2 separate regions of the Homo sapiens genome follow, and region 2 is linked to region 1. The links come from fine-mapping of genetic effects on gene expression. A gene starts in region 1. The other region holds a variant in brackets. All regions are shown on one strand. Distances are between the middles of the regions. Region 1 holds the start of PRAP1 (proline rich acidic protein 1). Region 2 overlaps ZNF511-PRAP1 (ZNF511-PRAP1 readthrough).

The links. PIP is the estimated chance that this variant, and not a neighbour inherited with it, causes the effect. A credible set is the group of variants that fine-mapping cannot tell apart.
Region 2: its variant is the best candidate, but not a certain one, in a credible set for the expression of PRAP1 in testis (GTEx, PIP 0.59).

What each region holds. Positions count from the first base shown.
Region 1 is chr10:133,345,095-133,349,476 of GRCh38, forward strand. PRAP1 (proline rich acidic protein 1) reads left to right here and starts at 2,279. Exons shown (of 5, transcript NM_145202.5): 1 at 2,279-2,331. The coding sequence starts at 2,324. All of the region lies in intron 5 of ZNF511-PRAP1 (ZNF511-PRAP1 readthrough), which reads left to right. RefSeq lists enhancers at 1,645-2,304, 2,305-2,964, 2,965-3,624.
Region 2 is chr10:133,317,555-133,321,936 of GRCh38, forward strand. The region is part of intron 5 of ZNF511-PRAP1 (ZNF511-PRAP1 readthrough); the gene reads left to right. Among named protein-coding and RNA genes, the nearest start is that of ZNF511-PRAP1, 11 kb to the left of the region's middle. RefSeq lists an enhancer at 988-1,217. The variant C/T (reference allele first, on the strand shown) is at 2,114.

The DNA of each region.
Region 1 (4,382 bases):
TTTTCATCTTTGTTTCAACATTAAACTATAAACTAAGATCCTCCCAAAGTTGGTGTGACCTACACCCAGGAATGAACAAGGACAGGTTGGAGGTTAGAAGCAAGGTGGAGTCGGTTAGGTCAGATTCACTATCAGGTTTTCGCAAAGGTGGTTTCAGGAGCAGCCCCAGGCAAGAAGGCCAGAGGAACATCTGTTCTCACCCAAGCCCAGCGGCTTCTTCGGGTGACCCCTCCTCAATAGCTCAGACGCTGTGGGTCACGTTGGAAATTCCTGAGTTGGCCTTTCTTGAGGGCCCTCACTCCACCCCCTTGGAAGCACGGCCTCCAATTGTGTCTGAACATGCAGCTTCGGGAGAACCATACCCTGCAGGCCGGCGGTCTCAGAGCCCCCAACAGTAGCTGCCCGCTGGGGGTTGTCGAGGAAAAGAGTGAAACCCTGTAAAATACTTGGAGAGTGATTCTGAGCCAAATATGAGTGACGGAAGGCCCATGATGCCGTCCCAGGAGATCCTGAGAACATGTGTGGCCCGAGAGGGTTGGGGTGCAGCTGGTTTGATACATGTTCGGGACACGAGACATCACTCAGTACGTGGGAGATGTACATGGGTTTGGTCCAGAAAGGCGGCGGGTGTCCAGGTCATTGGTGGATTCAGTAATTTTCCAATTGACAATTGGTCAAAAGAGTTAAGTTATTATCTAAAGACCTAGAATCAATAGAAGGGAAAGTCAGGGTTAAGATAAGGTGTTGTGGAGACCAAGTATATGCAGATAGAATCAATAAAAGGGACTATTTCTTGTCAGAGTCTGTTCTATTAGTCTTAAGGTCTCTGTTTTAATGTTAATGCTGGTCAGTTTTGCCTGAATTCCAAAAGGAGGCGGGTACAATGAGGCCTGTCTGACCCCCACTTCCCATTATGGCCTGAACTAGTTTTCAGGTTAACCGTGGAATGCCCTGGGCTTAGGGAGGGTCCATCAGTCGGGTGGGGTCAGGCGGAGATTGGAATTGTGTTTTTGTTTTACAGGGTGTGCCAGGGACGGCTAAAGAAGGTGGTCAGGGCCGGGCGCAGTGGCTCATGCCTGTAATCCCAGCACTTTGGGAGCCCGAGGCAGGCGGATCACTTAGGTCAGGAGTTCGAGACCAGCCTGGGCAACATGGCGAAACCTCGTTTCTATTAAATATACAAAAATTAGCTGGGCGTGTTGGTGCACACCTGTAGTCCCATCTACTCAGGAGGCTGAGGCGGGAGAATCACTGGAACCCAGGAGGCGGAGGTTGCAGTGAGCTGAGATCGCGCCACTGCACTCCAGCCTGGGTGACAGAGTGAGACTGTCTCAAAAAAAATAAAATAAAAAAGGCAATGAGGGCACTGGGCCCCGTGGAGCGGGCCCTGGCCACACAGCGTGCAAGACTCCTCAGGCTGGTGTGCCCAGTAAGGAAGGACAGGAGGGAGCGCCTGGAAGGGGTGGGGAAGGTGGTGGCGTTGGGGGTGAGGGTTCCACGGTGGTGGAGCTGAGCTGGTCCCGCCCTGCCGCAGGTGGTGGGCAGGGGCAGGTGTGACAGGCAGGTGGGCTGGGGCTGGATGGGGGATTTGTCACGCCCACCTGAGGAAGGAAGTGCTTCAGCTGAGCTGGGGACAGCTGCCCACGACACCCTTCCAAGTTGCCTTGGTTGTGAGCACGGTTCAGCCTTCATGACAAGCAGGTTTTTTTTTTTTGGTGTTGTTTTGTTTTGTTTTGTTTTTTGACTGAGTTTCGCTCTTTGTTGCCCAGGCTGGACTGCAGTGGCGCAATCTCGGCTCACTGCAACCTCCGCCTCCCAGGTTCAAGCAATTCTCCTGCCTCAGCCTCCTGAGTAGCTGGAATGACAGGAGCCCACCACCACGCCCACTTAATTTTTTTTATTTTTAGTAGAGACGGAGTTTCACTATGTTGGCCAGGCTGGTCTCAATCCCCTGACTTCAGGCAATCCACCTGCCTCAGCCTCCCAAAGTGCTGGGATTACAGGTGTGAGCCACCGCGCCCGGTCAACAAGCATGTTTTTAAAGGCAAATTTCTTCCTCAGTCGTGTGGCAGGCCCTGAGCAGGCAGCTGGGTGTCCCCGCTCAGATCCAGGCCCGAGTGGGCTGGGCGGCTGCAGAGCCAGTCACCTGAGCTACCCAGGGTGGGATCCCTGGCCCCGACCTCTGTCCTGACACGCCCCAAGCGGCAGCAACAAAGCCCCAATTGGCCTGGGCCTGGGCAGGAGGAGCTGGGCCGGGTGCCAGATACTGGGATCAGCCACTGCAGCTCCCTGAGCACTCTCTACAGAGACGCGGACCCCAGACATGAGGAGGTAATGCCACCATCCCTGAGCCCCAATCCCCACCCCACCCAAACCTGGAGGCCTGGCCCTTAGCCAGAGGGGGCCCAGCTGTGCTGCGCTCCAGGGGGCCTGGTTCAGGGGAGTGTGCGGGTGGGAGGGAGAAGGAGGGGCCCTCTGAGGGTCTGGGGTCTGCCACCAGGCTCTACCTCCTCTGTGGCCCCGAGTGCACTTGCCTCTTGGTTCCCCTGGCCTGGTGGAGAATCACCCAGGGACCCCCACCCGGAACAAGGAAAGGGGAGGTGCCAGGCTGAAACCAGCAGGCCTGTGACTGCCCAAAAGGAAGGGGGCTGGGGGAGGGGAGGGGCTGGGGCGCAGGAGCCAGGGGCTGCCCTGAGGTGGTGTCACCCTGGGAGCTGTGATCTGGAGCTCAGGGAAGCACCCGGGCTCCCGCTGGACCCTGGAATCAGAGGCTGCCTTCCTTCTGTGGGGGTGTCTGTCTTCCCCCTCCTTGTGTGGGGGACCCCTCTCCCCGCTCCTGTGGAGGTGCCCTCCTCCTCTTCCCCCTCCTCTAAGCCAGGGCCCTCCCTGCCCCTCCTCTCCTGGTGTTTCTCCCTTGTAGAGAGGTGGCTTCTGGGTAGCTTGGGGACCCTTTGGTGCCCAGAGCCGTTTGCCTGGAGAGGGGACCCACGGGGATCCCACAGCCAGGCTGCTTGGCAGTCACCACCGACCACCTTTCTAGGGGCTACCGTGACCCGAATCCCAGGCCCCCAGGCTGTGTGTCATGGGAGGTGGGCACCAGGGGTGGCCCAGGCAGCACGGCAGTGGGATTGGGGTCCAGTGCCCAGACAAGAGCCCCTGCCCAGCATCAGAACCAGCTGGGGGTCCTGAGGAGAAGCAGGGCCCCCGAACCAGACCAGACCAGGTCCCGGCCCCGGGCTGTCCGGGGCATCCCCCCTGCCCTTTGACCTCTCACCATGGCTGAGTCACCCAGAGAACGGGCAAAGGTCCCTGTGGAGCTGCAATCCAGGCCTGCAGGGTGTCCCAGACACTGATTCTTCTGCCTCAGCAGGAGTAGCTGCGATTACAGGTGTGTGCCACCACCCCCAGCTAAGTTTTGTTTTTTTTTTTTTGAGACAGAGTGTCTCGCTCTGTCGCCCAGGCTGGAGGGACTGCAGTGGCGCCATCTTGGCTCATTGAAACCTCCACCTCCCAGGTTCAAGTGATTCTCCTGCCTCAGCCTCCCAAGTAGCTGGGATTACAGGCACCTGCCACCACGCCTGGCTAATTTTTTTTTTTTTTTTTTTGTATTTTTAGTAGAGACAAGTTTTCACCATATTGGCCAGGCTGGTTTCGAATGCCTAACCTCAAGTGATCTGTTGCCTCAGCCTCCCAAAGTGCTGGGATTACAGGCGTGAGTCACCGTGCCCAGGCAGTTTCATATTTTTAGTAGAGACGGAGTTTTGCCATGTTGGCCAGGCTGGTCTCAAACTCCTGACCTCAGGTGATCTGCCCACCTCAGCCTCCCAAAGTGCTGGGATTATGGGTGTGAACCACTGCGCCTGCCCCAGACACCCTTGACTGCAGCCCTGCTGAGCCCTGTACAGACCCAGAGCCCCGCCCCACCCCAAGACCACCCCACCCTGACAGACGCAAGCCTCCCCCGCAGGGCCCTGAAGAGACAAGTCTGCACCACATCACACACGCACGCACACACAGACACACTCCCAAACCCTCACACTCTACACACCACACACGCATGCACACAGCACACACCCACCCCCAAACCCTTACGCTCCACCCCACACACAACATACATACACATCCAACACATACATGCACACACAGCACACACACACACCCAAGCCCACACACTCCACACCACACACAACATACACACACATCCACCACACACAAACACACATAACATACACACACAGCACACGCACCCCCGAACTCACACACTCCGCACCACACACAACATACACATGCACCACACACTGAAGCACACAGTGCACACACACCCGAACACGACACCACCCACAGCATACATGCACACCCACCATGCACATGGTCCACACCCA
Region 2 (4,382 bases), 28 kb before region 1:
ATGGAAAGACCACACACCCCCCCCAGACACAGAGATGGAAAGACCACACCTCCCCCCCAGACACAGAGATGGAAAGACCACACCCCCCCCCCCCAGACACAGAGATGGAAAGACCACACCCCCCCCCCCAGACACAGAGATGGAAAGACCACACCCCCCCCCCCAGACACAGAGATGGAAAGACCACACACCCCGCCCAGACACAGAGATGGAAAGACCACACACCCCCAGACACAGAGATGGAAAGACCACACACCCCCCCCCCCCCAGACACAGAGATGGAAAGACCACACCTCCCCCCCAGACACAGAGATGGAAAGACCACACCCCCCCCCCAGACACAGAGATGGAAAGACCACACCCCCCCCAGACACAGAGATGGAAAGACCACACCCCCCCCCAGACACAGAGATGGAAAGACCACACCTCCCCCCCAGACACAGAGATGGAAAGACCACACCCCCCCCCCCAGACACAGAGATGGAAAGACCACACCCCCCCCCAGACACAGAGATGGAAAGACCACACCCCCCCCCAGACACAGAGATGGAAAGACCACACACCCCGCCCAGACACAGAGATGGAAAGACCACACCCCCCCCAGACACAGAGATGGAAAGACCACACACCCCCAGACACAGAGATGGAAAGACCACACACCCCCCCCAGACACAGAGATGGAAAGACCACACACCCCCAGACACAGAGATGGAAAGACCACACCCCCCCCCCAGACACAGAGATGGAAAGACCACACCTCCCCCCCAGACACAGAGATGGAAAGACCACACCCCCCCCCCCAGACACAGAGATGGAAAGACCACACCCCCCCCCAGACACAGAGATGGAAAGACCACACCCCACCCCCCGAGGACACAGAGATGGAAAGACTACACCTGCCCCCCAGACACAGAGATGGAAAGACCACACCCCCCACCCCCCTCCCCCCGGACGCAGAGATGGAAAGATGGCCGCATCCCCGGGAACACGCACAGGTGGAGAGGCCAGGGCCCAGCTGTGCATGGACGACTCCGAGCTGAAGTGCAGCCGTGGGTGCCAGTGCCGGTCTCCGTCCTCCTTCACAGGAAACACGGAGGCCGGGGCCGCCAACCCCGGTCCCTTCATCCTCTGGCCCCTTCGCCCGCTCCTCACACGGACGGGCTGTGCCTGTGTCTGCTCCACTGGCAGCCGGTCGATACCCCCGGGCGTGCGGAGATGAAGACCTCAGGCGACCGACCGCCGTCCTCCCCTTTCCCCGCGGCCCAGGTCGGCGTGTCTGGCTGCAGCGCCACCTCCTGGAGGCGTCAGCACCCTTCTCCGCTGGGTGTCAGTTCGGACACTGTGGAGGGACGCGCTTGGAGGATGTGGGCGGCCCCGCGCGGAGCGGTGCAGAGTCGGCGGTTGTGGTGGTCCTGGCCCAGCATCCAGGCCTCGCATTGCCAGGGGCAGGCGGCTGGGAGCCTGTGGGAGGAGGTGTGGGAGCAGGGCAGGGGTCCCCAGAGATCCTCCCGGTTCCAGCCACCCTGCGCGAAGGTAAGGCCTCTGCCGCGGGCCTCAGTTTACCCATCTGTAGATGAGCAGGTGACGGGTGAGCTCCAAGAATTAGCCAGATTTGAAGCCCAGTGCTGGGAACACGGTGGACACATTCCTTGACTCCTACTGTCCCCCTTGCCCCTCTCTGCCTCTCATGCTCATACACGTGCACACTCAGATGATCCACTCCCCCTCCTCTCTGTATGTGCGTCCCTGCTCACACACGCTCACACTCACACAATCCACGCCCCTCCTCTCTGTGCATCTGTGCTCACACTCACACGCTCACACACACAATCCATGCACCTCCTCTATGTGCGTCCATACGCTCACACTAACACACACACAATCCACACCCCTTCTCTTTGTATATGCATCTGTGCTCACACTCACACACTCATACGCTCACACACACACAATCCACACCCCCTCCTCTCTGTGCGTCCGTGCTCACATACTCACATGCTCACACTAACACATGCTAACACACAATGCACACCCCCTCCTGTCTGTGTGTCCGTGTTCACACGCTCACACACGTCATCCACACTCCCTCCTCTCAGTACGTCTGTGCTCATAC[C/T]CTCACACACTCACACTAACACACGCACTCTCACACACACAATCCATGCCCCCTCCTCTCTGTACGTGCGTCCATGCTCGCACACAGGGAAGCCAGAGGCCCTTCCACCCCCATCCTGTTGGCTCTCACGTGGGCTGTGTGGATCTGGAAACCTAAATTCCTGATTTTGATCATTGCATGAAGGTTCCGTAAGAAGACGCCCTTGTTTGCAGGGAATCCACACTCAAGTATATACGGATAAAGAGGTCACTTCCTCTGAATGCAAGGAGTTGCCAGGCCGGGTGGGGAGGGTGGGACTTACGGCAGCTCCAGGAGCCCCTGGGCCCTTCTCATCTCCCATCTGGCTCCAGGGGAATGGGAGATGCCCGTCCCTGGGGCAGAGCTCACCCCTCCTCAGGCCCCACCCCCCACTCCCCACTCAGATGCCCCATTCACTCATTGGCTCAGAAAAAAAGGTAGTAGGTAGCAGCTAAAGAGACGACAGATTATTGATAGATGATAGACAATAGACGATAGGTGATAGATGATAGATAATAGATAATAGACAATAGATAGTAGGTGATAGATAGTGGACGATAGGTGATAGATAATAGATAATAGACAATAGACATTAGGTGATAGTAGACGATAGGTGATAGATGATAGATAACAGTAGGTGATAAATAATAGACGATAGGTGATAGATGATAGAGGATAATAGGTGATAATAGGCGATAGACAATAGATGATAGATTATAGACAATAGGTGATCGATGATAGATAATAGGCCATAGACAATAGGTGACAGATGATTGATAGGCTGGTAGGTAGATAGACGAGGTGGTGGAATGTGATAGAGCAGATGGGATGGAATGCCAACTGCTAGAGTTTGGATGTTAACATTTGATCCCCAATGTTCGAGGTGGGGCCTGATGGGAGGTGTTTGGGTCATGGGGCAGATCATGAATGGCTTGGTGCCACCCTCAAGGTAATGAGTGAGTTCTTGCTTGATTACTTCCTGTGAGGAATTTTTTTTTTTTTTTTTGAGTTTCACTCTGTCGCCCAGGCTGGAGTGCAGTGGCACAATCTTGGCTCACTGGAAGCTTCGCCTCCCGGGTTCACACTATTCTCCTGCCTCAGCCTCCTGAGTAGCTGGGACTACAGGCACCCACCACCACACCCCACTAATTTTTTGTATTTTTAGTAGAGACGGTGTGTAGTGTGTCTGGAGTTGGTTCCTTCTGGTGGGTTCATGGTCTCACTGACTTCAAGAATGAAGCTGCGGACCTTTGTGGTGAGTGTTACAGCTCAAATGTGGCATGGACCCAAAGTGTGTGCAGCTGCAAGATTTATTGTGAAGTGTGAAAGAACAAAGCTTCCCCACTGCGGAAGGGGACCCAAGCGGGTTGCCGCTGCCGGCTGGGGGTGGGGAGGCAGTGGTGGCCAGCTTTTATTCCCTTGTTTGTCCCTGCCCATGTCCTGCTGATTGGTCCATTTTACAGAGTGCTGATTGGTCCATTTTACAGAGCACTGATTGGTGCATTTTACAAACCTCTGGCTAGTGACAGAGTGCTGATTGGTGCATTTTTACAGAGCACTGATTGGTGCATTTTACAAACCTCTAGCTGGCTATAGAGTGCTGATTGGTGCATTTTTACAGAGCACTGATTGGTGCATTTTACAAACCTCTAGCTAGCTACAGAGTGCTGATTGGTGCATTTTACAATCCTCTTGTAAGACAGAAAAGTTCTCCAAGTCCCCACTCAACCCAGGAAGTGCAGCTGGCTTCATCTCTCAACGGAGTTTCACCCTATTAGCCAGGATGATCTTGGTCGCCTGACCTTGTGATCCGCCCATCTTGGCCTCCCAAAGTGCTGGGATTACAGGCATGAGCCACCGCACCTGGCCCGAGAATGGATTTTTTTTTTTGACGGAGTCTTGCTCTGTCACCCAGGCTGGAGTACAGCCACGCGATCTCAGCTCACTGCAAGCTCTGCCTCCCAGGTTCATGCCATTCTCCTGCCTCAGCCTCCTGAGTAGCTGGGACTATAGGCACCCGCCACCACGCCCAGCTAATTTTTTGTATTTTTTTTTTTAGTAGAGACGGGGTTTCACTGTGTTAGCCAGGATGGTCTCGATCTCCTGACCTTGTGATCTGTGGGTGAAGGATTACCCAGGTGCCGAGGCAAGAGACTGAAGGCACAAACTGTAGCAGTATAATAAAGAAAATAGTTAGAATAAAGAATAGTTATAATACAAATTAGATATAGAGATGATCATGGACATTATC